Regions from separate parts of the Homo sapiens genome. Here all the other regions are reported to be linked to region 1. Evidence: microRNA targets listed by miRTarBase, many of them from high-throughput screens and not tested one by one. Region 1 holds a microRNA gene; each other region holds the end of a gene's coding sequence.

Evidence for each region. The annotated mature microRNA hsa-miR-1304-3p reads UCUCACUGUAGCCUCGAACCCC and lies in region 1 at 5,049-5,070, shown strand. An mRNA with a match to its seed (bases 2 to 7 or 8) in the 3' UTR can be bound and repressed. Matches are read on the target gene's strand: a 7mer-m8 pairs with bases 2 to 8, a 7mer-A1 pairs with bases 2 to 7 and ends in A, and an 8mer does both.
Region 2: miRTarBase lists DSG3 as a target of hsa-miR-1304-3p. Seed matches in the 3' UTR shown: 7mer-m8 at 5,807-5,813 and 7mer-m8 at 5,359-5,365.
Region 3: the mRNA of UBE2G2 is a reported target of hsa-miR-1304-3p. Seed matches in the 3' UTR shown: 7mer-m8 at 1,788-1,794, 7mer-m8 at 2,825-2,831 and 7mer-A1 at 2,869-2,875.
Region 4: miRTarBase lists GJA9 as a target of hsa-miR-1304-3p. The part of its 3' UTR that is shown has no 7-base or 8-base seed match.

The regions. Positions count from the first base shown.
Region 1 is chr11:93,731,642-93,738,760 of GRCh38, reverse strand. It overlaps MIR1304 (microRNA 1304), which reads left to right and starts at 4,997; the gene lies at 4,997-5,087. It overlaps TAF1D (TATA-box binding protein associated factor, RNA polymerase I subunit D), which reads left to right. Exons shown (of 6, transcript NM_024116.4): 3 at 262-652; 4 at 1,522-1,697; 5 at 2,010-2,067; 6 at 2,457-3,194. The coding sequence ends at 2,600. It overlaps SNORA1 (small nucleolar RNA, H/ACA box 1), which reads left to right and starts at 6,628; the gene lies at 6,628-6,757. SNORA8 (small nucleolar RNA, H/ACA box 8) reads left to right here and starts at 6,262; the gene lies at 6,262-6,400. It also overlaps SNORD5, SNORA18 and SNORA40. RefSeq lists an enhancer at 1-843.
Region 2 is chr18:31,475,593-31,482,711 of GRCh38, reverse strand. DSG3 (desmoglein 3) reads right to left here. Exons shown (of 16, transcript NM_001944.3): 16 at 4,010-7,066. The coding sequence ends at 6,452. Among named protein-coding and RNA genes, the nearest start is that of DSG2, 19 kb to the left of the region's middle.
Region 3 is chr21:44,765,164-44,772,282 of GRCh38, reverse strand. UBE2G2 (ubiquitin conjugating enzyme E2 G2) reads left to right here. Exons shown (of 6, transcript NM_003343.6): 6 at 794-3,703. The coding sequence ends at 906. Among named protein-coding and RNA genes, the nearest start is that of UBE2G2, 33 kb to the left of the region's middle. RefSeq lists enhancers at 2,758-3,258, 5,100-5,863, 5,864-6,627 and a silencer at 3,555-3,849.
Region 4 is chr1:38,868,078-38,875,196 of GRCh38, reverse strand. It overlaps GJA9 (gap junction protein alpha 9), which reads left to right. Exons shown (of 2, transcript NM_030772.5): 2 at 1-1,128. The coding sequence ends at 646. It overlaps MYCBP (MYC binding protein), which reads left to right and starts at 1,849. Exons shown (of 5, transcript NM_012333.5): 1 at 1,849-1,906; 2 at 2,107-2,179. The coding sequence starts at 1,892. All of the region lies in intron 1 of RRAGC-DT (RRAGC divergent transcript), which reads right to left. All of the region lies in intron 1 of GJA9-MYCBP (GJA9-MYCBP readthrough), which reads left to right. RefSeq lists an enhancer at 2,293-2,815.

The DNA.
Region 1 (7,119 bases):
TTGCACCACTGCACTCCAGTCTGGGTGACAGCAAGACGATGTCTACAAAACTCTTTAATAAGAGCTGTAGCATTATGGGCTATTTAAATAGGATGATCAGTAGAAAGGCTAGCTGGTTCTGAGCCCATCCTTTAAAAAATTTTTAATTCTGGGCATGTTTTCTGAGTTGGTCTTGGAAGAAATGTACATTTAGGACTGGGTATTAATGGTAATAAGCAGTAAGAAAAGAAGATGAAATTAATTTTTTTCCCATTTTTCTAGTGATAACTCTTCTGATAGCAGCTTATTTAAAACTCAGTGTATCCCTTACTCACCTAAAGGGGAGAAAAGAAACCCCATTCGAAAATTTGTTCGTACACCTGAAAGTGTTCACGCAAGTGATTCATCAAGTGACTCATCTTTTGAACCAATACCATTGACTATAAAAGCTATTTTTGAAAGATTCAAGAACAGGAAAAAGAGATATAAAAAAAAGAAAAAGAGGAGGTACCAGCCAACAGGAAGACCACGGGGAAGACCAGAAGGAAGGAGAAATCCTATATACTCACTAATAGATAAGAAGAAACAATTTAGAAGCAGAGGATCTGGCTTCCCATTTTTAGAATCAGAGAATGAAAAAAACGCACCTTGGAGAAAAATTTTAACGTTTGAGGTGAGTCAGCATTTTACATACATGGCTACACATAACTCAAGATGCCCAAAATGATTTGTTGGCCAATTTAGAATTGTCTCAGATATACTGGGAACAGACTGTCTGCAATTTTGATACTCTTCTATACTGACTTACCCCTAAAGTCCACCCTATCCTTCAACTGAATCTTGACTTGTATCTCTTAATATAACTACACTTTGCCATATTTAAAAGATAGTGCTCCAAGGCTCTTTGTATAAAATCCTTTGATCTTATCCCATCTCAGGTCTTTAAACACAACCCTAAAACTCAGTGGGGATAATAAAAGCTCACATAACTTGAAATTACTTTTGCAGTAACCTAAACTAAAACCACACATGCCTTATGTTCAGTGGATATATTCTTAAGGCCTAGATGTTTCTAAGCCAATTATCTGAAAAATACGCTAATACTTAGGAGTAGACTTTTTTAAATATTTGAGAGTTGTATGTTGAATGAATTCAGAATTAATTTATGATCCCTTGCCAGAACCTGAAATTTTATTTGGGAGGATTAATACATGTTAATCTCTTCAGTTAATCTCTTAAGTTTAAGGTGATTATAGTAAACATTAGAAATCTTATTCCTGTTTTTACATTTTAAAATGCCTTTAGTAAGTCCCAGACATGACAAGATATGTACTTCACTTTTCCATGTTACCAGCTTAGGTAAATTCATAATTGTAATGTGAATTTTAATAATCAGCATTTGATAAGTCCACAAGTGGGGAGTAGTTAAGATAGCAAATTCAGAGTCTTTGCTAAGGGGGGGCATTGCCCTTTTTGAACATAGGCACCTGCTGGGTCTTAAAAATAAAATCTCGACATACTTATGGTGTTTTTAATATATAGCAAGCTGTTGCAAGAGGATTTTTTAACTATATTGAAAAACTGAAGTATGAACACCACCTGAAAGAATCATTGAAGCAAATGAATGTTGGTGAAGATTTAGAAAATGAAGATTTTGACAGTCGTAGATACAAATTTTTGGATGATGATGGATCCATTTCTCCTATTGAGGAGTCAACGTAAGTGGAATCATATGAAATACTTTGGTAATAGGTTATAAATTAAATTTCTATGTTAATTGCTTCATATTTTGCCTTTAATATAGTTATACTTAAATAATGAACAAAGATACAGAGTATGACAATTGGGATTATTACAGTTGAGCCAAGCTTGGCACACCGTTCATCTAGAATTCTCCAGAACACAAAATTCTCAAATTTTGTGTTTCCTTTGACTAGTATTGCAGTTTCAGTTATATTTCAGAGTGGAATATACAACTAATTAGGTCATCGAAGATTCTGTCATCTCGATGATAAATTTTAATATTACAGAGCAGAGGATGAGGATGCAACACATCTTGAAGATAACGAATGTGATATCAAATTGGCAGTAAGTGACTTATTTTTTTCCTATTCCATTTTGGGAAGGCAGGAGTTGGTTGATACAGAAGGAATTATATTTAGTTTTTCTCTTACACTTCATTTAACTTTTGAAAAGCTCTATAAGTTTACTGCAGGAAATGCAAGAAGGAAAATAATTTTTTAGAGACTTGATAAAGAACATGGGGTTTTCAGTACTATTTTTAATAAGTAGCATTCTGATACATATTATTGCTAGTTAGGATGTCAAATGAAAAAATAAGCAATGTTAATTTGGATTTTTAACATCTACATGTAGTCTCTAGGTTATCTGAAGTAATCCAGGGCATTCAGCTATATGTAATTACTAAACTATTTGAGTTATTGCTTAATCCATGATTTTTTGTTTGTTTTATGCAGGGGGATAGTTTCATAGTAAGTTCTGAATTCCCTGTAAGACTGAGTGTATACTTAGAAGAAGAGGATATTACTGAAGAAGCTGCTTTGTCTAAAAAGAGAGCTACAAAAGCCAAAAATACTGGACAGAGAGGCCTGAAAATGTGACAGGATCATGAATGTCAAAGGTGAAGCATATAGAAAAAACGACTTCATAGAAATGAATAAAGATAAATGTGGATATATGTACCAGTCTGGTGGTGAAGAAATTCTGAAACCCAGAACTTTATAACAAGAAAAAAAATTTTTAACCCTGTGAAGAAGTTTGTGAAAGAAACTTGTGAAGTAGTAATAATTAGAAAAAAAACCATTAAAACACCAGAGAAAATACATAGAAAAATTTGAGAAATTGTCATTTGATTTCTGAATAAGAGCTTACAGGTGTCCTGTGAGTATTGAAACAATGAAATGTAGTGATTTTAATTTTGAAAAGAAAATCTTAAAGTAACTTGACACCCAACCATCTTGAAGAGGGGATTTGAAATGCTGTAATTTTATCCCAGCTTTGTTCAGCCATGACAAGTGACCTGTCAGATGCTTAGTATTGTAATAACCTCATTTCCCTTTCCAAATTTAGAGTATCTTTAATACTATTTTTTTTAGACAGAGTCTCGATCTGTCACCCAGGCTGTAGTGCAATGGCCGCAGTCTTGGCTTACTGCAACCTCCATCTCCCGGGTTCAAGCGATTCTGCCTCAGCCTCCTTAGTAGCTGGGATTACAGGCGTTAGCCAGCACACCCAGCTAGTTTTTGTTTTTTTAGTAGAGACAGGCTTTCACCATGGTCTCGAACTCCTGACCTCAGGCGATCCGCCTGCCTTGGCCTCCCAAAATGCTGGGATTATAGGTGTGAGCCATGGCACCTGGCCTAATACTACTTTTAACTACCATTTTCACTTTTTATTAGTTCAAGAAAAGGCATACACATTTATTCAACATGTATACCTGGGGAGAACCAGTCATTACCCCGATGTTCATTATTTTGATCACCACGATAGAGCTGACTACTCTGCTATGTAGTGCATTTTGGGACTGCACTTATGTATGTTTTTGTTTAACGTGGACAAAGACTTACAGATAGGTGCAAAAAATAAATCCTCTTTTGCAACCCAGAACTCATTGTTCAGTATGAGTTTTGATACATATAAGAAGGGATATTATGATACCTGAGACAGTTGATTGATGGGAGTATTGATAGCCATAAAGGTTGGTTCCAGGCCAGGTGCAATGGGTCAAGCCTGCAATCCCCACACCAAGGTGGGAGTATTGCTTGAAACCAGGAGTTCAAGACCAGCCTAGGCAAGAAAGTAAGAAACACATCTCCACAAAAATTTAAAAATTAGCTGGGTACTGGGGCATGTGCCTGTAGTTGGAGTTACTCAGAAAGGGGGGAGGCTGAGGCAGAGTTGGAGGCTGCACTGAGCTTTGATGGCACCACTGTACTCCAGCCTGAGTAACAAAGACAGACCCTGTCTCTTAAGAAAAAAAGGTTGATTCCAGGCCTGTAGAATAGATAAACAGCATGGGATATGAGGGAAATCCTCAGCAGTATTAATTTTGCATTCCAATTTCATGTTGATGATATACACAATGGCTTTTTGTTTTAAAGGCTTTTATCTTGAGAACATGGTGTCTGGAGTTAAAGGTATGTCTCAATTTGAGTTTTCACATCATATTTGTTTATGTGTAGGAAACAGTATGTTGTCAGAGCAAGTTTCATTTTATTCAGGGACATTTCTACCATGCTTTTAATTCCCATTTATACTGATTTCTGAAAAGAAGAATCCTAGATTCACACATTTTATAGTGATGTGTCAGATTCATTTTAGTTGCAAGCATTAGAGGGTCCTGAATTTGTTAGTTTGTAGCAATAATCAGAACTTTGGATTTCCTACTTGAAGCCTACAGCATTATTTTGAATTAATGCACAATCTAAAATGAGGCAGAGGATTTTATGGTTTAATGCAAAATATAGTATAATAAAAGATGATTACACAGGTCATAAGAATTCATAAATTTGAATGATGTAGAGTTTGATTAAAAGTTATATAATGCCAAAGTCGTAACTTACAGGCACATTATATTCCTGTATTTTATAATGGATGACAATTAATTTTGAGCCAAGAATTAAAATTTGCTGAAATCTTCGAATTGGGAAAACAACATCCTCTGTTGCAATACTGAAGTTCATAACAACAGTTAGACTTTAAACTTAAATCTTAAGTTTAAATCTTTTTCCTTTGGTTCATGTAAAGGAGCTACTTGATGTTACTTTTTATTTATCATTCCTCTGGCTCCTAAGCACAACGTGATTGTGAAATTATTGTTTTTGTGATTAACGTAGTAGGAAGTTTCTGCAGTTGGCAATATTGTAAGAGCATATTGCAGTTTCTGCTCATAATTTCTTTCCTATGGAGTGTTAGACTTTGTTATTTATGTGTATAAATACTAGCTGGACACAGTGGTGCCTGTGGTCCCCAGCTACTCTGGAGGCTAAGGCAGGAGAAACACTTGAGCCCAGCGGTTTGAGGCTACAGTGAGATGTGATCCTGCCACATCTCACTGTAGCCTCGAACCCCTGGGCTCAAGTGATTCAGCAAGAATCACACGATTTTTAAAAGACATGGCAGATCCTGTGTCTTTAAAAAAAAATCAAAACCTTGTAAATAGTGGTTGAGGTCTATCCCGATGGGGCTTTTCCTGTAGCCTGCACATCGTTGGAAACGCCTCATAGAGTAACTCTGTGGTTTTACTTTACTCACAGGACTATTGTTAGATCTGTGGGAAGGAATTACAAGACAGTTGCTAAAAGTTTGAAAAAGACGGTTGCTAAACGTTATGAAAAACCAGATAATCTACTTTTTTACCTTAGGTATTGGCATACTCCACACATCTGTACCATTCTTGAGTGATCGCTTAGGTAAGTTTTAATTGGTGACAGTATAATCTTTTGGGAAATAATGATTACAGTTCAGATGATGAATTTAACTGTTCAACTGCTGAATGATAACGGGCATGAACTAAAACTTAATTCTGACAGAGCTGGATATGGCTGTATAATAAACTGGATCTTAAATTTATACTTGGGTTTTAGTTTTAATAACTGGAAATGTATCCTTTCTAAATCTTTAATTGGTACTTTCTATAGGAATGAATGTGATTTGAACTCATTCATGTTGAGAGGTAAGTAAAATATTTAACTTATAATAATCAAGGACTCAAAAGATGAAAAATAGAAATTACACCATCCCAGTATTTCAGGTATAACACAGAATTAGTAAGATACTGGCAAAAATATTACAATGTATATATTTGTATAGAGAAGGAAAATGAAGAGACTGCATGTCTATACCTACCAAACGAAACTACCTGTGTTCTTTGCATCATTATTCAACTGGCAGTTACACATATTTCATCCTAAAGTCACGTAAACCTGTGTGGATATGTTGAATCAATAGGGATATGAATTACATAAAAAGAATTTTGTGTAACTGGCAGTTTGAGCAACAATGAGCTTGACGTTTGTTGTCTGATCTGTTAAGTTACATGTATATATTCCATCTTTAAGTTTTATAGAGAGACTGGGCAAAGATTAGGCAAAGACTAGAGTTGTAGCTTAAAATGTAGTTAATGTAGCTTCCTTATTACAGTGACAATTAGGAAAAAAGCTCAAATTATTGTACTTGTTAAAGGAATTTGAGAGGTTTGTGAAAGCATTTCTCAGCAATATTGCAAATTTGGGAATACGAGTTGTACAGTTCAGTCATAATTGCACTGCATGGTATCTGCACTCAGCAGTTTACACCTGCTAGGGTGTTCAAAGGTCAGTGCTATAGAAATTCAGTATCTGGCATCGTTGGTTTTCTTGGCTTTGTGCTTGTTAAACCTGGTATTTCTACTGATACAGTATTTGTGTAGGTTTCTCAGAGTGTTCAGTTTGATATACTCTAAAATAGTAAGCAATGCTTTTTTTTCCAGGGTGTCAAATTGAGAACCAGGTAGATCCCCACCACCTACAGTAAAAAGGTAAGATTCTCTGTTTCTATTGATTCTGCTTGTTTCCCTCTATCAGTAGCACTGCCAGCATAACAAGAACTTCGTACAAATACACTACTAAGCTTTAAAGACTTTTACAATGCCTCATTCTAGAGAATGGGCACTGTTGATCATGGTGTCCAAAAATAGTTAATGTGGCTAAATTGAGACAGGTTATGCTTCCATCACAGTATGCATATTGCAGTGGTGACAATGAGACCTGTAACATTTTGCTATGTTTATGAGTAAAAATGTAGGAGAAAAATGTTGACTTTTCAATATTAGAAATAACATTTAATAAGGAATTTTCAGCTCTTATAGGACCACTTTTTTTATGTGCTGTATATTGACTGAAACATTGTAATGTGGTATACATTACTGTGTCTTGGATCAGGTGTCAAAATGTAACTGTACTTTGTACAATTCAACTTCTAGGACCCTAAAGTAAATTGGTTGAAGAAATTAGATCCCAAAGATTCTTGGTAAGTTAATTCATTACTTAAAAGGCCATGCAGGTTATTTTGTTGAATACTAGCTTTTCTCCAAATGTTATTTTAGGTTATTTATTTATCTAGCAATGCTATTGCAACATC
Region 2 (7,119 bases), not on the chromosome of region 1:
CGATCTCGGCTCACTGCAAGCTCTGCCTCCTGGGTTCACGCCATTCTCCTGCCTCAGCCTCCCGAGTGGCTGGGACTACAGGTGCCCGCCACAAGGTCCGGCTAATTTTTTGTATTTTTAGTAGAGACAGGGTTTCACCGTGTTAGCCAGGATGGTCTCGATCTCCTGACCTCGTGATCCGCCTGCCTCGGCCTCCCAAAGTGCTGGCATTACAGGCGTGAGCCACCGCGCCCTGCCTTAACTTTTGTTAATCATTAAAATATAATATAGTTATTTTGATTGATTAACAGATGGAATGAGATTTTTAAAAATTCTCTTAGCTCCTTCAGTAGTGATTTTTTTTTTTTTGCAAACTTTAATAGGTTTTCTTAGCTTGACAACTCATTCTCTATATTCACGAACATCTCCTGACTTGTTCCTTCAGTGGAGATACCCTTTTCTAGCCAGAGTTGGCAAAAGTAGCAATAGCATGCATTGGCTTGTTTGAGAGGCCCTGGGTGAGCCTTTGTTGCATAAAGTAGGAGGTCTGTTATTGTCTTGGTAGCATATGCCTTCATTATAAGTTTGCCTCTTTGAAAGAATATTCAAAGACCAACACAAAAGAGAACATTTCCAGATCCAAGAGAGTGTATGTAGAAACAGTGGCAAGTTAGAAAATCAACTTAGGTATCAGATAGCAGCCACAAAATATGTTCTGAGGAAAAATTCATAGCAATTTATAACAGCTGAGAAAAAGAGGGAGGATGCGGGAAGGTAGATTTTGTCAGAACTTACTAGACTAAGGATTTATTGCATATTTTTTACTAATTAAATGTTGGGGATGTCAGACGTGGTTGAAAATAATTAAAAGTCTGGTTAAATAAGGCTTTTTCACCATAGCTTACCTAAAGAAATTTAGGTGCAAAATCTAGGTGATTATTATTATTTTCTAAAATAATAATGCTAGATAGCAGAATTCTTAAATGCAGAAACTTTGTGTCTGCAGCGCCCACTAAGCATTAGTGTCTGGTCCATAGATTTGATAATGGAAAGACCCTGCTTTAGCTATGCCAAGCCATGAGGTTACCTGAGGCAAGAATGTGGGTGTGTGTGTGTTTCATCTGAGTTAGGACCATATAAATCTTATTATCAGTAGAAGTCAGTTGGACATGAGAAGACATGACTGAAGTTAATCTCATATTTTGTGTTTAAATACTCATTTTTCACTTAGTAACAATGTCTCCTTGCAGGATTGAAAATCATGTCATTATGCCATTTGAATAAATACAGGATTACCTGATTCTTTACAGCTTTATAATCAAGAAAGTTCCTTGCAATCCTTCTTTTGATTATGAAAGAACATAAATACTTCTTCTGCCTTCTGGGGAAATGAGGACATACACGTTGTTTCAATATCAATGTTTTGCTTATATTATCATCATTTGATTCTCTGTGTTGTCACATAGAATTCACTGTTTGCTAATTTAGTAATGATGAATTCTGCACACAGAAAACATCAGAGATGTTCTGAGGCATAAAATTGAAAATATAGTCGTACCATGTTCCTCAGGAAAATCAAAGTAGAAATGAAACTGATTTCAAGGAGTAAAAAATTTGTAGTTGTTAAAATATGTTCTTTTCCACAAATCATGGAAACACTGAGCTGGAAGGACATGTTTAAGGTAATCATTTCATATCTGGATACATTTCATACAACCTCTTCTAAATAGTGCTTTATCAAAGTAATTCTTAGGGACTTGACTGAGAAAGAGATTCCAGGTAGTTTTTTTCAGTACTTACAACATCAGTTATAATTGTATAAAATTGCATTTTAATTTTATATTAAAATACAAAAATTGTAATTTAAATTCAGCTAAATACTTGTTTCTGCAATTTAGGCTTTTGGCTCATTCTTATTAGTTATTGGTTGTGGAAGAGACCTGGTCACTGGCCCCTGAAAGAAAAACCTCCACATGTACTTCAAAATAGCAGCATCATGTATTAGCATTCTCTCTCTCTCTTTCTCTCTCTCTCTGTCACTCTCTCTCTCTCTCCCTCCCACACACACATATGCCTACATTATACTACTTATTTAATCTTTAAAATTACATCTAGATTTGTAATCCTTTTTATAATTTTCATTTTCTTTGTATTCTTTCTAATTTTTAATGTTCTACTCAAGTCTTAGACTGGAAGTGAACGGATTATTCTGAGAGTAATAGTTATTATTTCCAGACAATTATTGATAAACTTTCACATCTGTGTCACTTATTGTGCAAATTTGAGAAAGTTATTTTGCTTCTCTGAGTCTCTGTTTCCATGCCTGTAATCTAAGGATTACTCTAGAATTGAATTAGAGTATGTAGCTCTCTTGACCACGTGGTAACCCTCACCAATGTCTCTTTTCTTCTTGCTCTGATAACCGCATCCATTTGTACTTGTTCTTCAGACATTACCCTCTTGAGTTTTAACTATATCTCTATTGTGTCTAAATTTTTTTGTTTTTTATTTGTAAAAATGAATCAAACTGTGGAAGAAAAAGAAAGTAAAGACACCAACCAGAGAACAGCCTGATGTCTTTGGCCAGGGAGGGAATCTCAGCATACTCTGGACAGCAAAGCAAGAGGAGTCTCAGCGTTCATCGTGGAAAACGTGTGGTTTCTGGCTTCTGGAATTTAAATGATTGTGTATCTTCTTGTCTTATCAATTATCCCCTTTACGTAAAACCATCTCAGACTATGTGACTGAACGCTGTGAAACCATATAATCTCTAATTCAGTATTCCTCTTTGTAGACCCAGAAGAAGATACGAGACAATGTGGAAATGCAAGAACAAGAAGGATTCTTAACTTTTACTTGTTTCTAAATTGTTAGTTGTATTGAAACTAGTCAGTTGAATGTGTCCCATTCACACTCTTACCTCACGTATGAAGGTCCTCAGGTAAAACTAAACCGATTTTGTCACTTTCGTTCCTTGAACTTTCTATGAATAGAAGAAGCTGGTAATATTTTTGGATTTTATCTACATGACTTTCATTTTCCTGGAATTGATTTGAAACATTTGAGTTAAGCCAACTACCATTCTTTACTCAATATTTGCTTTAATCCAGTTTCTTTTTCTCCCCATACTCCATGTCCAAGCCTCATTGATCAGATTTAAGAAGGAGGAAGGTCAGCCAGAAGAAAGTTCTGAAGCGTTGGAGGGACTTATTCTGTGGCATCTTTTAAAAGGAGACATAAGGACTTTAGCATTTACAGAAAAACAGTTCCACTTCTGGGGCTGATGGCTTTCACCAGTGACATGGTACGCATTTTTCATCAGGCTAGATTGTAAACATTACCTTCTCTTTACTCCAGCTTTTCTCCCCAAGTCATCTTAGAATGTCACAACTTTTGAATGTCACAACAGTGATCTCTCAGTTACCTGAGAGACAATTGCAACTTGCAAAATAAACAGTAAATGACTTAAAGCATCCAGTTAGTAAAGTCCCTCTGCCCTGACCTCATCCAGCACTTTCTCCTGCACTATGTCCACCTGAAGTCATCCCGAATCTTGACATACTTCCTTCCTGCCTGGAAGATGCAGAAAAGGAATCAGCTAGAAAAAATAGCTAAAATACTGATAAAAATACATACGTGAGTCATTTTATATCAGGGGTCCCCAACCCTGCCCCCACCCCCCAGAGTACCTGTCTGTGGCCTGTTAGGAACCAGGCCGTAGCAGGAGGTGAGCTGCGGGCAAGTGAGCAATCCAGCTTGAGCTCCGCCTCCTGTCTGATCAGCAGTGGCATTAGTTTCTCACAGGAGCGTGAACCCTATTGCGAACTGCGCATATGCGGGATCTAGGTTGCCTGCTCCTTATGATAATCTAATGCCTGATGATCTGAGGTAGAACGGTTTCATCCTGAAACCATCCCTGCCGCCGTCTGTGGAAAAATTGTCTTCCACAAAAGTGATTCCTGGTGCCAGAAGGGTTGGGGACTGCTGTTTTATAATCATATTTCTTAATAACTATTAATATAGAGAGTAGTTCAGCTTTTATTTATAAATTTATTGCCTGTTTTATTATAACAACATTATACTGTTTATGGTTTAATACATATGGTTCAAAATGTATAATACATCAAGTAGTACAGTTTTAAAATTTTATGCTTAAAACAAGTTTTGTGTAAAAAATGCAGATACATTTTACATGGCAAATCAATTTTTAAGTCATCCTAAAGATTGATTTTTTTTTGAAATTTAAAAACACATTTAATTTCAATTTCTCTCTTATATAACCTTTATTACTATAGCATGGTTTCCACTACAGTTTAACAATGCAGCAAAATTCCCATTTCACGGTAAATTGGGTTTTAAGCGGCAAGGTTAAAATGCTTTGAGGATCCTGAATACACCTTTGAACTTCAAATGAAGGTTATGGTTGTTAATTTAACCCTCATGCATAAGCAGAGGCACAAGTTAGCTGCATGTGCTCTAGACTGTAGAGCGAGCCACCGTTGAGAAGCAAAGGACAGCAGCAGGAAGAGCAATGGAACCTCCTCAGGACTTACCAGGCTGCTGCACAGGATCTAGCTTCTCCCACCTAAGATGGGCACATTGAAAGCCTTGTTGCAGCAGCACCCCCATCTGTGGAAGCACAGGCTGCCTGCACTTCTCCAGCTGCTCTAGCACCTGACTTCCTGGTAGTCAGGGTACCAGGGAGAGGGAGGAGCACCAGGGTGGGGGATATTTAGGGGACCTCTTTCCTTCAGGACCACACCCTTCTAGGTGAAAGCACAAACACTTGATTACTTTGCATTCCATCTGCAAAAACAAATTTAGGTTTTGAATATGGTGAAAAACGAAGAAAGGAAAATATAAAACTCTGTATTTTATATACAGTAAGGAATAATGGAGGCTGATAATGATCTTGTGATCAGCTAAGACAATGTCAGTAAGCAGGTGAGGTAGGGTGCTTTCTATGGGCAAAAGGGTGAATATCTTGAATGACCAGAAATGACTCGAAGAGCTGCATTACTATCATGGTAGCATGCATGAAGTGATACATCTAAACCTTTGCTAACCTAACATTATTACTCTCAAGCTTTATTATCCTCAAGGCTTAAATGGCTGTAGCTGTTTAATTTAAAAGCAAGGCTTAAAAAATAGAGGTTACTCATAATTCCCTTTCCATATCCCTTTTTGACTTGAAAATTATTTCACCAACTACTTTTCTGGAATGCTGCTTATAATACATATTCACAGATTGCCCTATGTGTTATTCTAGTCATTGGCCCGTTTTGCTTATAAAAAAGGCCATGTTTTGTATTCCTACAAAATCTGCAGACATTGTTAACATAATACACGTCATTATACATCATATGTATGCTACATCTACTCACTGACATTTAAAAAATGAGCTATTTTCAAAGACTAACACAGGATCTGTTACTGAGACGTGTAGGAAGGAGCTCAGTGTAAAATATTTTCTTTGGATAGATCCCTTCAAAGGGATTAAAACACACAAAATATTATTTATACTAAACTTTCTTAAATGTTCTATGATATTTCTATTTCAAAATTCTCTTATTGTGAGAATATGTGAAATATAGATGTAGCAAATTCAACACATAAGCTTATACCCCTTAGCTTGAGTAAAAGACACATATATGGCTTCCCAGCACCAAGAAGATGGAAGAAACTCTACTGCAACTACTTCCCTTTTTCCAAGCAGCTCAAAATGCTTTAGCAAATACCTTGTGATTCTTTTTTTTTTTTTTTTTTTGAGACGGAGTCTCGCTCTGTCGCCCAGGCCGGACTGCGGACTGCAGTGGCGCAATCTCGGCTCACTGCAAGCTCCGCTTCCCGGGTTCATGCCATTCTCCTGCCTCAGCCTCCCGAGTAGCTGGGACTACAGGCGCCCGCCACTGCGCCCGGCTAATTTTTTGTATTTTTAGTAGAGACGGGGTTTCACCTTGTTAGCCAGGATGGTCTCGATCTCCTGACCTCATGATCCACCTGCCTCGGCCTCCCAAAGTGCTGGGATTACAGGCGTGAGCCACCGCGCCCGGCCCCTTGTGATTCTTACATCATTATCAATGATATAAGAAAAGGCAATGGAGACAAGAACCAGCGCTCCTGCTTAATCCACTAAATCACATTGCATTTTAAAATGATAAACACCTTCCTTTGGCAGGGGAAAAATAGAAGCTTAAGAATGTTTAGGAAAATTTCCTGGCGAATATGATTTTAGGGTTTTGAAAAACTTTAAGATTTACTACAATTTGAATAGTACTTGAGAATTAGGAGTGACAACATATTGCTTTTGGGGTATGAACCCAAACATTTAATTTATAATCGTGATCAGTTTATGAGAGAAGCTAATAAGTGCCAAATTATTAGCCCAATACAGTGAGCTTTGCTATGCTATTTTGAATACTTTAGTCCAAAGATCCAGATTTGGTCAGTGTGGTATTCCAGCTCATTCTGGTCATATTAGACGGGAGCAAGGATCCTCTGTACAGAGCATAGTATGTGACCCTCGTAGCTGCGTTGGGCCAGCTAGGTTGCCAGGAACACTGGAAATGGGACAGATCACCCTTTCTGTCACTATCACATTTTGTGTGAGAAGTGGATCAAAGCCTGCAGTGGAAGGTTGCACGAGGGAACCAGAAGCCGAGTAAGTCTCCGTTACTAAATAGTTACCATGCTGCAGAGGGTCAGGGATGGAAACAGCTGGCTGGACAGACCCAGAGGTGGACAAAGCAGAAGCTCCTTGACTTCCTGACAAAGTCTGGCACTTAACAAATCCTGTCTGCTGGACTTCTATGGGATGGCCACAGGATTCAATCCCATAACCGCTGTCTTTAGAGGGTGGCTGAACTTCTTTGCCTTCACCATCAACACCAAGGCTTATCTCTGCAAGTTTTTTAAATTTGGGTCCAAGTGAGTCCAAGAAGCTGTCATCCAGGTCATCAGCAATAAAACTGCAACAACCCACGGAGCCCACAGGAGAACCAGTGGCATCTGCGCCTTCATTATCATAGATCAACAAGCAGTCATTTGCTTCCTGGCCATCGTCTTCCTCCGCACAGGCAAATGCTTTCTAAGACAGAGAAAAAGTGGGAAAAAATGAATTTTAAGAAAGAGTCAGTTGAA
Region 3 (7,119 bases), not on the chromosome of region 1:
AGGGAGCCAGGCCAGGGGATTGGAGATTGGGAGGGAGGCAGTGGCTCAGGCTGTCCTCAGATGTCAGCTGTGGGTTTTATCCTCATCAACTCTGCTCTGAACCGGTCCCCACGTGCATTCTGAGCAGCGCCACCGCCGCACTGCACAGCTGCTGCCTCAGCACATGTCATCCAGTTCTGGTGGTCTCTCTCCGTTCTGCCTTCCGGCAGGCCCTGGCTACTCCCTCCGTGCCTCCTAACTGCAGTTCTGCAGTGACTGCCAGTGCCGCTGGCTAGGGGGTGGGTCAGGTATCCTGGGGTCAGGTGTCTACCTTAGGCTGCACATTTGCTTGGGATTGTCTTGGTAGGAGCTGTGAGGGGCAGTTTTGCTGAGAGGGCGCTCTGTGAGAGAGAAGCCACACTGCAGAGTGTCTTGAGAAAGGTGAAATAAGCAGCAGGTGGTCCCCGTGTAGCTTGTCCGGGTGCCAGAAGTGCAGTGGCCCAGGAGGCTGCTGTGGGAGGCCGTGTGGGCCTGTGCTTAGGTGGTTGTCGCATGTTCCACAGCAAGACAGATGACAACTTGTCCTGGTGTCTTCAGACACTCAGAACGCAGGAGTCATGAGAGTGGCTTTCGTTGAGACCTGCGTGGCCAGCACTCTAGAGGTGGGGCCGACCCCATGCAGTTCTCAGGTTCTTTGTTTCTGGGACACAGCTCTTGAAAGCCCCCGCCAGTGTTTTAAATAAATGGGAGACCTTGCCAGGCTGCTTACGTATAAGACTCCCTTTTACATGGAGGGTGTTCCCTTTTCTTTCAGAGCCCAATGACGAAAGTGGAGCTAACGTGGATGCGTCCAAAATGTGGCGCGATGACCGGGAGCAGTTCTATAAGATTGCCAAGCAGATCGTCCAGAAGTCTCTGGGACTGTGAGACCTGGCCTCGCACAGGCGCGCACACACCGCCAAGCAGCTCAGCATTCTCCCCCGGCACACTTAGTGACAGTGATGCTCTGTGCTGGTACCAAACAAGGCAGACTTGCAAGAACCATGGCATCTTTTTTTTTTTTCAAACCTTTCCTACTTCAAACAGGCTTCTCTTCTGAAATGATGACTTAATGTCGAATATTGACAGCTTACTGCAGTTTTACAGTATTCCTCACAAAGGGCTTCAGGTAGATTATCAGAGCTGTCAGCACTACCTCTCCCCGCTGAAACCAGCAGTTCATGGCTTCCTGTGGATTCCCTCCCTCCCTGGAGTGTTGAGGGGGTTGTACCTGCCAGACTTCCAGGGGACGATGGAATACCCAGAACGCTCCTTCTGAAGAAATGGGGCCCTGTAGCTGCAGCACAGGGGAAGGGCCCGGCACCCTTTCTGGGTCCTTCCTGGTTCCCTGTGGGCCCCATGAGGAGTCCATTACTTCCTTTCTTCCTTCATATTTTACAGGCAGATGCTTTTCTTATAATCTAATTACATCTTTTCATTTGTTATATATTACAAACCATCACACTTAGAAATACTTCCAGGAAATGCTTTTTTGAAGTGTGAATTAATAAGAAATGGGGTAAATAGAAAAGAAATTTATTGCTGATTGGCCAGGTGCGGTGGTTCGTGCCTGTAATCCCAGCTCTTTGGGAGGCCAAGGCAGGTAGATCACAAGGTCAGGAAATTGAGACCATCCTGGCTAATACAGTGAAACCCCATGTCTGCTAAAATTACAAAAAATTAGCTGGGCGTGGTGGTGCACGCCTGTAGTCTCAGCTACTCAGGAGGCTGAGGCAGGAGAATCGCTTGAACCCGGGAGGCAGAGGTAGCAGTGAGCTGAAGTCCCGCCACTGCACTCCAGCCTGGGCAACAGAGCGAGACTCAGTCTCAAAAAGAAAAAAGAAATTTATTGCTGATCACAAGGACAGACAGTTTTTTCCCGACCATACTCATCAAAGATTTACGTTTGTATATTAGTAACTAGTGCATTACTAGAGCAGGTGCAGGTGAGGTCTTTAAAGTTTCAATGAAAGTTTCTTCTGGATCTACAGAAAAAATTTTTTTTTTTCAATCTAAAAACTGGAAATTCTAGGGTTTTTGTACATTTTGGATGCACTGGGAATTTATTAGCACAAAATCATTCTTTGCAACTCAAAATTCAGAAGGGACTCTACCATATCTTAGCTCAGAGCACAGAGGAGTGCCTTATCCCCACACTTGACTGGGCTGTGGAGGTGGGCATGTGGGCCCCTGGGCCCAGGCTGGGGACAGAGCCCTTGTTTTGTGACTTAGGATTTTGATGTGGTTCCCATGTTCTCTAACAGGGCCAGCTGAGCAGCACAGGCCAGGAGGCCACAGTGTAAGCAATAACAGATCTGCCACATGCAGAAGCAAATATCAGGCCTGTCGCACACGGGCGGCATTTAAATAGGAATTTCTATTTTTGAAATAAGGGATGGTCTATGAGGCATACAGTAGATTTGATGTGATCCTTTTCTCCCTCCCTTCCATAATGGATCGTGGTCTGTGTGACTGAACCCACACAGAGTGTCATGGGTGACAGTTTCTGGTTGAAGTAGCTCCACGCCTGGCTTCTGTGGACAGCAGATTCTTTTCCTTCTCACAAGGGGCTCATTTAAAATTTGGAGGCTGGGTGCTGTGGCTCACGCCTGCAATCCCAGCACTTTGGGAGACTGAGGCGGGCGGATCATGAGGTCAGGAGATCGCGACCATCCTGGCTAACAGTGAAACCCTGTCTCCACTAAAAATACAAAAAATTAGCCGGGCGTGGTGGCGGGCGCCTGTAGTCCCAGCTACTCTGAAGACTGAGGCAGGAGAATGGCGTGAACCCAGGAGGCGGAGCTTGCAGTGAGCTGAGATCACGCCACTGCACTCCAGCCTGGGCAACAGAGTGAGACTCTGTCTCAAAAAAAAAAAAAAAAAAAATGGAACGCAGGGCAAGAACTCGTATTTGGAAGGAGATGGGGGAAAGGAGCGGTATTATACCTATGTTGTATTTGCAGGCAAATGAGATGGAGCCCTCTCTGTAAAGAAGAGTCATTTGTGCAAGTAGACGGGGTCTGTGGGTGCAGGCCCTGGAGGGGCACACAATTGCCTGGAGGCTTCTGTGAGATCGGGAGAGGGAGGAGAGGCAGTCTCTTGACAAAATAAAGTATTTTTATTCATTTGTATTTATTAAATGAAAAAACAATCCCATGGTGTCCCTGTTGTGTGGTGGAACCTAATGACTGTTGAAATAAAGTTCTGTGTTTTCCCTGCCCTGCAGTGTGTGTCCCTTTGTCGTATTGTCAGAGGAGCCTGTGGCCACTGCCCCCAGGGAGCACACCAGATCATCCCAGCTGGGATTCCTCACGGTGGGGGCTTTTCTGCAGACTTGGGTTAGCTCTGGCATGTTTTCTTCTGTTTCTGATCTCCCTTCTGTCATTCTGTGGTCTTCCTCTGGAATTCTCAGGTTAGTTGGGGTCTGTGAGACGGATGTGTTCACTAACCTATAAATGACATTTTGCAGCTTTTTCAGCAGATGCCATTGTGTGAGTGGCACATTTGACCACTAGAAGCCAGCAGGCTGTTCCGACTGCGCTTCCCTCCTGCAGTTGCTTAGAAGCACAGCTCCCTGTCATCACTCCTCTGTGGTCCTCTGTGGTCACGGTTGGTTGCGATGAGACCTGCCTCTGCGTCTTGTTACTTAGCATGTCAATAAAGAGGCAGATTCCTGTGTCAGTGATTTGCTGTTTCTGTTTTGGTAGTTGGCGGTCAGCTTTCCTTTGTAATCCTGTGAGGCAGGGTCCCCAGGCTTCCCCAGGTGCTGGCGCCTCGTTCCCTGGGCTGGTTCCCAGGCTGCTCCTGGTGGGGTGCACTGGGCGAGTGCCTCAGCACAGGCCCCCAGGCATGTCTGTTCTGCCCTTTGCCCAGTGTTCTCACTAAGCATTCTTTTTAATGGGTAAGAACTCTAATGTGATACTGAGTTGGGGTCCCCAAGACCACCCAGGGCGGCGATTCTCCAGGAGGACAGAGGCCATGCAGGTCACGGTAGTCACGGCTGTGATTTCCCACAGGGAGGACACTGAGCAAAATCGGCCAAGGGAAAGGTTCCTGGGGCCGAGTCCAGGGGCACCATGCTCAGCTTTGGAGGCCTCTCCTGGGGTGGGGGTCACGCAGGATGCGCCTCACTCCCCTGCAAGCAGCTGGGACTCTGCGTGTGCGATGTTGGGGATGCCCTGCCTGGTGATGTACCCGGGGGCTGGTCACGTGAGCAGCTTCTGCCTGGGCTGCGCTACAATTCCAGACTCTCAGCAGGGATGTGAGTGTTCTGCCTAAACCACCTTGTACAAATAGCACAGGCCCAGTGAGGCGGGGTTCAGGGAGCCCCTCGGAAATCCCAGTTCCCAGACGCCAGCCAAGGGCCAGCCCGGCCAGCGGGCCTCAGGACGGCCGTCCCCACTGTATGGACCCTTTCTGCGCAGATAACCTTGGGGGTTGACAGTGATTTTTACCATTTCATTTGCTCTGTGTTTCTGGGTTTTGTCTGCTGGCACTGGTTTGCCACAGTTGTTTGCCTGTCTGGCTGAGTGCCGTCCTTGCTTTTCCCATGCAACTGTCTGCTTCCTGGGATGGGGAGGGCTGCTGGGGTGGCCAGGGAAGCTCTAGGGTCTCATCTTCTGGGTGTTGGGGCTTTTCACCCTTCCTGGGGGTTAGCGGCCCCAGTTCACTGCTTGGGCCACAGCAAGGGTGGCGTCCACAGCTCTGACTCTCACTTCTGGGATTGCTGCACCTGCTGGGGCTTCTCCAGTCCAGTCTCTGTGTAGATGAGGTTGCTAATTTTTCAGAGGAGTGCTGTTCTGTACCAGTTTCTTCATAGGATATGGAACTGCTCCAGCTGCACAGAAAGGCACCCCAGGGCAGCCCCAGCTTCCCTCCCCTGGGCGTGCCTTGCACCGTGGCCCCCTGAGCTGACAAGGTTTCTGCAGGCTGGAATTTGTGCTGGAGGCGAGGGCCCTGGGGATGCTACCTGGACACAAGGAGGGGACAGGAAACAGGTACAAAAATTCGGGGCTGCCAAGGGGCAGTGAACACACTAAGGACAGGTGGATTCTGGAAACCCTGCCCTGGAGGGGACCGCGGGGCCGCTTGGGGTGGGGGCAGGGTTTGGAGAGGGGCTGTGAACAAAGCCAGCCCCTCTGGGTGTTGGCCTGGGGCCTGGACCCTGGGCTGGGGGGGGCACCCTGGGAGGAGGTCTCGTCGTGCTGATGTGGCGTGGTGGCCCCATCTGGGAGGGAATGCTGTTGGGCCCAGGTCCTGGCTGAGCCCTGTGGAAGCTGGAGGTGTTCAGCTCCTCAGATCTGTCCAGGTTGTGACCCGTTGTCACGAGAGCCTGGCTTTGTTGAGGGGACAAAGCAAGGTGAACCTCCCTGCAGAGGCAGGAAACACCAGCTTCCTCCCCCAAACCCCGGCACCACTCAGCCAGCCATAGCCTGTACCCCCTCACCATCCCAGACACACCTTCCAGGCCTCAACACCCACCGAACCCACCCACTGGGCAGTGCCAACTGTCTGGTACCCCGAGGCAGGTCTGGTGCCCCCGAGGCAGCTGGCCCATGCCCTTCGTCATCCCCTGGTGAACATCTGTAACCCCTGCCCTTGGCCTCACCCCGTTGAATGTCCCAGCCCTGCCCTCTGCTGGGTGGGCGTACTGGTTCGGGGATCCCATAGGAGCGTCAGGGAGATGGGGCTCTCCACCTTTGTGCCCCTCCTGTGCCCCCGTTCCCATGCCTGGACTGTGAGCGCTGCTGGCTGTGTGGAACCTGACCTCCAGGGCCCGAGCTCTGACACCAGAAGTGGGCAAGTCCTCACACGTCCGGGCATCTTCCCCTCTGAAGGCTGTGAACCCAGCCATGAGATGTCCGAGGGCGTGCTCTGAGGAGTTGAGGTGGGGGAGGTGAGGTCATTTGCCAAAGCCCCAGCCAAGAAATGGTCCTCGCCGTGCCCCGATGCATCGCTGAATCTGCAAGGCCCCCCACCCTCCAGGACTGTGGCCCCTCTGCCTCCATGGGGTGCGGTTGGTGGCATGAGGCCCACTGCACCCTCCTATGCAGTGTCCACCTAGACCCAGGGGCCTGCTGGGCAGCCTCCACTGCTCCACCTTCCCCCGCTTCAGGTGCTGGCCTTTGCGACACAGCCACCTCATGTCTCTTCTCGCACCCTGGTCTGGTCCTCTCAGTCCCCCCACCATCAGGCTTATTAGCCCACCTGCTGCACTTGGCAAAGCCTCACCTTCCACTCGGGGCCAGGAGACACCAGGGCCCGGCCCTCAGCACCCTCCCTTACATGCCTGGAAGTTCCTCTGTCCACCAGCTCAGTGGGGAAGTGCTCTGGACACCCCAGCCACTTTCCTTCTGCTCCAGACTCCAGATTTTCCTCCCCCTGCAGTGGCCATGCATGTTGTCTGCCTCCCACAAGTGTGGCCCTGCGGCCCTGCCCCCAGCTGGGTGGTGCACTGGTCAGGTGACTCACTCCCCTACATCCTTATCAGAACCCCCCGGGGGCTGGGGTGAAGATCGGCCAGCCTGGTAGCTGGCAGTGCTGTTGCTCTAAGTTGCTTGTCATAGGGATAACAAGAACGCATCCTGTGGCTTTCTTTTTTGAGTACAATTTCATGAGAGGCTAGGATGGCAAAGTGAAAGGAACTGGTTTTTCAGGTGTGTAAGTACAGAGCATTCAGCCCCATCTCTGTGGTCGGGAGATGATGCAGGGCCCTATCTCCGGTTTAGGCTTTGCAGTGGCACCCTGTCGTGTGACTGGGTGGGGCTGGGTGCCTTTGTGTGGGGACCACAGACCTGAAAGCTGCTCCTGGCATTGCCAGGAGTGTTGTCTGGGGCTTGCCAAATAGGCATGGGCAGAGTTGGCGTGGGGTGGCGGGGGGGTCGGAGGGAGGGCAGGATGTGTTCTGTGGTCCTGCCCTGTGGGCAGAGGCTGACGTGGGGCATCCCCACTGCTGCCTGGTCAGTGGCTGTGGGTGAGCTGTGGGCCTGGCAGCTGAAGGTGGCTCTGGCCAGCCTGCTGGGGCTTGGCCTTCCTCAGACCCCAGCAGCTGTATGACCTGGGCTAGCGAGGGAAGCTGTCTAGGTCTTTGTTTTCTGGTCT
Region 4 (7,119 bases), not on the chromosome of region 1:
TTCATCTTCTGTATTCCAGCCAAATCCTGACAATCATAGTGTAAATGATGAGAAATGCATTTTGGATGAACAGGAAACTGTACTTTCTAATGAGATTTCCACACTTAGTACTAGTTGTAGTCATTTTCAACACATCAGTTCAAACAATAACAAAGACACTCATAAAATATTTGGAAAAGAACTTAATGGTAACCAGTTAATGGAAAAAAGAGAAACTGAAGGCAAAGACAGCAAAAGGAACTACTACTCTAGAGGTCACCGTTCTATTCCAGGTGTTGCTATAGATGGAGAGAACAACATGAGGCAGTCACCCCAAACAGTTTTCTCCTTGCCAGCTAACTGCGATTGGAAACCGCGGTGGCTTAGAGCTACATGGGGTTCCTCTACAGAACATGAAAACCGGGGGTCACCTCCTAAAGGTAACCTCAAGGGCCAGTTCAGAAAGGGCACAGTCAGAACCCTTCCTCCTTCACAAGGAGATTCTCAATCACTTGACATTCCAAACACTGCTGATTCTTTGGGAGGGCTGTCCTTTGAGCCAGGGTTGGTCAGAACCTGTAATAATCCTGTTTGTCCTCCAAATCACGTAGTGTCCCTAACGAACAATCTCATTGGTAGGCGGGTTCCCACAGATCTTCAGATCTAAACAGCGGTTGGCTTTTAGACATTATATATATTATCAGAGAAGTAGCCTAGTGGTCGTGGGGCACAGAAAAAATAGATAGGGGCAGCTCTAAAGACCAGCTGTTAAGACAGACAACTGCAAACTCATTTAAGCAAGAGAAAAACAGCTCTAATTCGAGATTGTGAAGCAACACTTCTAAATTCAAAGACATAGAGTTGTCAAATCAGGATTTTTTTTTTTTTAAATGATATCCTTTCGAATGTAACTGATTTTGGGAAAATCACATGTTCAGAATTGAGGCTAAATGGTTTGATCAGGTTTTCTCTTTGAAGAGACCACAGCCTTAGGAAATGGTTCTTGATCTATACAATTCCACCTTGGACACTGGGTTAATTCTGTTTGCCCCTGGAACACAATCACGTAAGTTTCCTTCTAGACTGGCATCCTGATGTGTCTTGAGTATAATCACATGTTGCTACCTAGTAAATAAAATCTTAAGAAGATCCGTGGCTTTCCTTCACCAGTTCATAGCATCGTGATTCATTGCCCGGATTGGACTCGACTCTACTCACTGGACATCTAACCACTCCACTTAATTAACAATACCCACCCTACAGGGGTGTTGTAAGGATTAAAATTTAAAATACCCGTGTTTTCTACAGTGCCTGGCTCAAAAGCTACTGCAAGCTCGTTACTGCTCATCCTCCAGAGGCCCACATCAAGTCAGCCACGACTCAAGGAGACTCCAAAGATAAAAGCTGAAGCCAAAATATATGATTCTAAACACCCTCCTCGGCTACTGCAAAGCACTGTGAGCACTTTCTCAGGACGAGAGCCAAGAAGCCCAGCACCTATGGGTCACCACAGTTTCCGAGGTCCCAGATGAAAAAGATGCGCTCGCTACCACCGTGCGGCGGTCCTTTCTCTCGCAATAGTCTCAATGCTCCCGGGCCCTGCCTCCGGACGCCAGGACAGAGGTACCAAAATCTCACCTCCTGCAAAGAAACCTAATTGCTACGGGGGCCGGAAGAGGAAGAGGTGCGGCTCCGACAGCCAGAGGGGCGGGCATACGCAGCCTCCCTCGGCTCAGCCTGCTACTGGGGATGCAGAGCGTCCTGGTCGCCATGAAAACAGGCCACACCTCGGCGATCCCGGCCGGTGGTTTGCAAGTGCGCAGGCGCGCGCCCCCTTCCGCGCATGAGCAGTGCTGCTCCCAACCCGCCAGTCGCGGTCTCCGGCGCCAGCTACGCCGCTGCCGCTGTCACTATGGCCCATTACAAAGTGAGGGGGGCGCGGCGTGGCTGGGGGCATGCGGGCGGTAGCAAGCCGCTGGTCGGCTCTGGGTGGGAGTGGGGTCGCGCGCGCAGGTTTGGGCGGGAGGGCCCCGAGGTAGTGAGGCGGAGGCGGGGTTGCCGGACTCCCAGCGCCTTCTTCCTGCTCGGCTCCCGGGCTCTGGCCACTGACCCCCGGTGTCTCTTCAGGCCGCCGACTCGAAGCGTGAGCAGTTCCGGAGGTACTTGGAGAAGTCGGGGGTGCTGGACACGCTGACCAAGGGTGAGCCTGGGCTAGGAGAGGGTACCTCGTGCCCTCGTCGTGCTCCCCGGCGCTGCCCCGTTCCCCAGCGGGCCGTAGCGTGGGGAAGGAGGGGAAACAGATGGGGCCCGTCCGGGGTCCAGCGAGGTGGGCCTCGGGGTTCAGCAGGGACCTGGCTGCTGGACGCCGCCCGGGTGGGGTAGCCTAGCTCCGCTACCCTTCTCCGCACCGGGAGTGAAACTCTTGCAGCTGTTGCAAAGTCTCTTCAACTTCCGTTGCTTTGCCTCCAGCAGCCGCAGTGGACATGTTTGCCAAGGACCTTCAGATCCCAATTCCTCCCACCTTACGGTTTTTATGGAGTCCTCAGAATCTTGTTAAGAAAGTTTCCCTCCAACAAAGAGCAACTGGAAAAATGACCGAATTTCCAAGTGGGCTATGAAGTAGCTGAGTGAGCCTAATCCCCAAAGTAGGAGATTCATAGCGAATTTGGCTGTGGCTTTTCAGCCCCCATTCCTTAGTCTGTCTGTGTCAATTCTTATTTTGTGTATATTTCATAAAGTAGAATTACAGCTTAAAGAGCTCGAGGGCATATCAAGGTGGTTACATTGTTTTCACTTTTTAAAATGAAAGCTTACTGTTAACGCTGTATCTCTTCATTCGTGGCTTCAAGATCTAAGTTAAGTAGATGAGTAAAGTGTTGGAAACAGGAGGATTTCAAGGGGTAGGGTACAGTTTACTTTATTGGCTTAGCACTAATTTGAATGCCTGCTATGTGTCACTCAACTCACTGGGATATTCAAGGGTGTAGAATGGAATTGTTCGCAGGGATGAGGACTTGGGTCATATGAAACTAGGAAGTTTGGGAAGTGGGAAATAAATTGGTAACTGCCCTTTGGACAGAAGCAAAGTTTAGAGGAAAATTCTAGGAGCATAACTCCTGGGTCTTAGAAGAAAGAAGGCTAGTAATTTTGAATTGCTACCTATTTGGGGTTCAGATAATAGTTTACCTCTTTGCAAATAAACTTCAGCAAGTCTTAAGGGACTACTCTGTGAAAGTACTGTGCTATGTTGTCTCTGAAAGTGTCACAGATGCTTTGAATGTCATTCCGTCTAAAAACTCCTTACGTTCATTTCTTTCATTTAATAATTTTACTCAGGTGTCTGTTCTGCACACTGGAGATAAGCAGGGGAGGATAAAAGTCTCGGCTCTCATAAGCTTATATCCTAGTTGAGGGAGAGAAATACATAAATAAATATGTAGTGTCAGCTAGTGGTAAGTGGTACAGATAAAAATACAGCAAAGTTAGGGATAAAGAGTAACAGGTGAGGCCAGGCACGTGGCTCATGCCTGTAATCTCAGCACTTTGGGAGGCTGAGGTGGGTGGACTGCTAGAGGCCAGGAGCTCAAGACCAGCCTGGGCAACATGGCAAAACTCCCATCTCTTAAAAAAAAAAAAAAATTGCTGGGCATGGTGTGTGCCTGTAATCTAGCTACTGTGGAGGCTGAGGTGAGAGAATCACCTGAGCCCAGGAGGTCAAGGCTGCAGTGAGTTGTGATTGTGCCACTGGGCAACAGTGACACTCTGTCTCCAAAAAAAAAAAAAAAAAAAAGTGACAGGTGGGATGTGTGTGTCATTTTATATAGGGTGATGGGGGGAAGGCCTTTCTTAAGAAGTAATTTTTGACCAGAAACCTGAAAGAAACAGAGTTTCAGGAAGTCTAAGGAGGCCAGAGTGGTTGGATGGAGCAAGTGAAAGACTGAATGGTAAAAGGCAGAAAAATGACAGTTGTAGGCGGTAACTGACTACACAGAAGATGTTGCCCAGGCTGGAGTGCAGCGGCATGATCTCGGCTCACTGCAACCTCCACCTCCGGGTTCAAGCGATTGTGTTGCCTCAGCCTTCCAAGTAGCTGGGATTACAGGCATGTGCCACCATGCTTAGCTAATTTTTTGTATTTTTAGTAGAGAGGCGGTTTCACCACATGGGCCAGGCTGGTCTTGAACTCCTTACCTCAGGTGATCCGCTCACCTCAGCCCCGCAGAGTGCTGGGATTACAGGTGTGAGCCACCGCCCTCCACTAGAATTTAACCTCTCAATCTCCTTAGATTTCCAGGCTCCTAAATAACATCAGCCAACACAGTATTGATGTGATTTATTAAAAATTTGATTTTCAGCTCCAAACATAGGTGCTTTACACAATTCTATTTGTTTTTTTTTTTTTTTTTTTTTTTTTTTTTGAGACGGAGTCTCGCTCTGTCGCCCAGGCCGGACTGCGGACTGCAGTGGCGCAATCTCGGCTCACTGCAAGCTCCGCTTCCCGGGTTCACGCCATTCTCCTGCCTCAGCCTCCCGAGTAGCTGGGACTACAGGCGCCCGCCACCGCGCCCGGCTAATTTTTTGTATTTTTAGTAGAGACGGGGTTTCACCTTGTTAGCCAGGATGGTCTCGATCTCCTGACCTCATGATCCACCCGCCTCGGCCTCCCAAAGTGCTGGGATTACAGGCGTGAGCCACCGCGCCCGGCCTCTATTTGTTTTTACTTTTTATTTTTTTTGAGACAGAGTCTCACTCTGTCACCCAGGAATGCCTGGCCTCAAGTGATCCTTCTGCCTTAGCTTCCCCAAGTGTTGACGTTACAGGCGTGACCCACTGTGCCCAGCCTCACAAATTTAATTTACATATATATATTTTTTCGAGACAAGGTCTCTGTCGCCCAGACTGGAGTGCAGTGGTGCAGTCATGTCTCAGTGCAGTCTTAATCTCCCAGGTTCAAGCAATTCTCCCACCTCAGGCACCCAAGTAGCTGAGACTACAGGCACGCACCACCATGTCCGGCTGATTTTTAATTTTTTTTTTTTTTTTTTTTTGAGACGGAGTCTTGCTCTGTCACCCAGGCTGGAGTGCAGTGGTGCGATCTCTGCTCACTGCAAGCTCCGCCTCCCGGGTTCACACCATTCTCCTGCCTCAGCCTCCCAAGTAGCTGGGACTACAGGTGCCTGCCACCATGCCCGGCTAATTTTTTTTGTATTTTTAGTAGAGACGGGGTTTCACCATGTTAGCCAGGATGGTCTCAATCTCTTGACCTCATGATCTGCCTGCCTCGGCCTACCAAAGTGCTGGGATTATAGGCGTGAGCCATCATGCCTGGCCAATTTTTTTTTTTTTTTGTAGAGTTGGGGTGTTGCCCAGGTTGATCTCAAACTCCTGGGCTCAAGCAATCCTCCTGTCTTGGCCTCTCAAAGTGCTGGAATTTCAGGAATGAGCCACTTTGGCCTAAATTTTTACAGCTTATTTCCAAGATGATTTGAAATAGTTTATAACATTAAAACACTATGAAAGGATGGCTAAAGATGATAAATCATTTGGAAGCTGAAGCATTTTAGCTATTTTGAGCGCTATATCAACCTCTAAAAATCCTGGCTGCGAAGGCAAAAAGGGGAGCATGATTGGGTATAGAGTTCTTGTCTGATTACAAGGAAGTGCATTTCATCTATAGAACAGCACAGGAAACTTTGTATTTACAGTATCTTCTGCAACTATCAACCTTTCAAGTACCAGTGACAAATGAGAAGCTGAAAGAAATGGGGTGGGGGAATAAGAGGAGGAGAGAGTAGAGTATTAATATTCATGTCTTATAAAATGAGGATTTGGCCAGGTGTGGTGGCTCACACCTGTAATCCCAGAACTTTGGGAGGCTGAGGTGGGTGGATCACCTGAGGCTGGGAGTTCGAGACTAGCCTGACCAACACAGAGAAACCCCGTCTCTACTAAAAATACAAAATTAGCCGGGCATGGTGGCACATGCCTGTTATCCCAGCTACTAGAGAGGCTGAGGCAGGAGAATCGCTTGAACCTGGGAGGCGGGGGTTGTGGTGAGCCAAGATTATGCCATTGCACTCCAGCCTGGGCAACAAGAGCAAAACTCTATCTCAAAAAAAAAAACAAAAAAAAAAAACCAAATGAATTTCTCAAAAAATAGTGATTTTTTCATACTGTATATTATTTTGGTAAGTTATTAAAACTCTAAAAGAACAAAAGGGAAGTATGTAAGTTGGTTTACAACAGGACTTAACTTGGGGTCTAGATATCTATCACTGTTTTTTTGTTTGTTTGTTTTGTTTTTTTGTTTTTGAGACAGAGTCTTGCTCCATCGCCCAGGCTGGAGTGCAGTGGCACGATCTCGGCTCACTGCAAGCTCCGCCTCCTGGGTTGACGCCATTCTCCTGCCTCAGCCTCCTGAGTAGCTGGGACTACAGCCGCCCGCCACCACGCCTGGCTCATTTTTTGTATTTTTTAGTAGAGACGGGGTTTCACTGTGTTAGCCAGGATGGTCTTGATCTCCTGACTTCGTGATCTGCCCGCCTTGGCCTCCCAAAGTGCTGGGATTACAGGTGTGAGCCACTGCGCCCAGCCACATTTTTTTTGTGTGTGTTTACTTTTTTTGCTTTTATTAGATTTTTCAAAGGGTTCCATGCACAAAAAGGCCAACCACTGATTTAGAGTTTTTTATCTAAGTAGTAAATTCTAGGAGGAATTTGTTCCATAGATGAAGAGCAAGGCAGTGCTCATATGAGTGATTAGATATGAAACCACTCAAGTATATCTTATTTTAATGTTGATTTGAGCATGTTGACTACTGGTAAAGTTTTTGGTTGGTGGTTATTTAGCAAAACAAACTTAATTTTTAAGACCATTTTTGAATTCAGAGCTTCTTCCGGTAATTACCATAGTCCTGTTGATTCTTTCCTAAATTCTCGAATTTCTTTCTTCTCACTGTTCTCTCACTCCCATCACTCTACTGCAGGTTGCTGTCTTTTTAAACTGGATTACCACATCAGCCTTTTAACTGTTCTTCCTGTCTTTATCCTTGTCCCACTCCAGCTGGTCCACATAGCAGTTAAGAGTGGATCCTGTCACTCCCTTCCTTTAAACTGTTTAATTATGTGCCAACCAAATTTG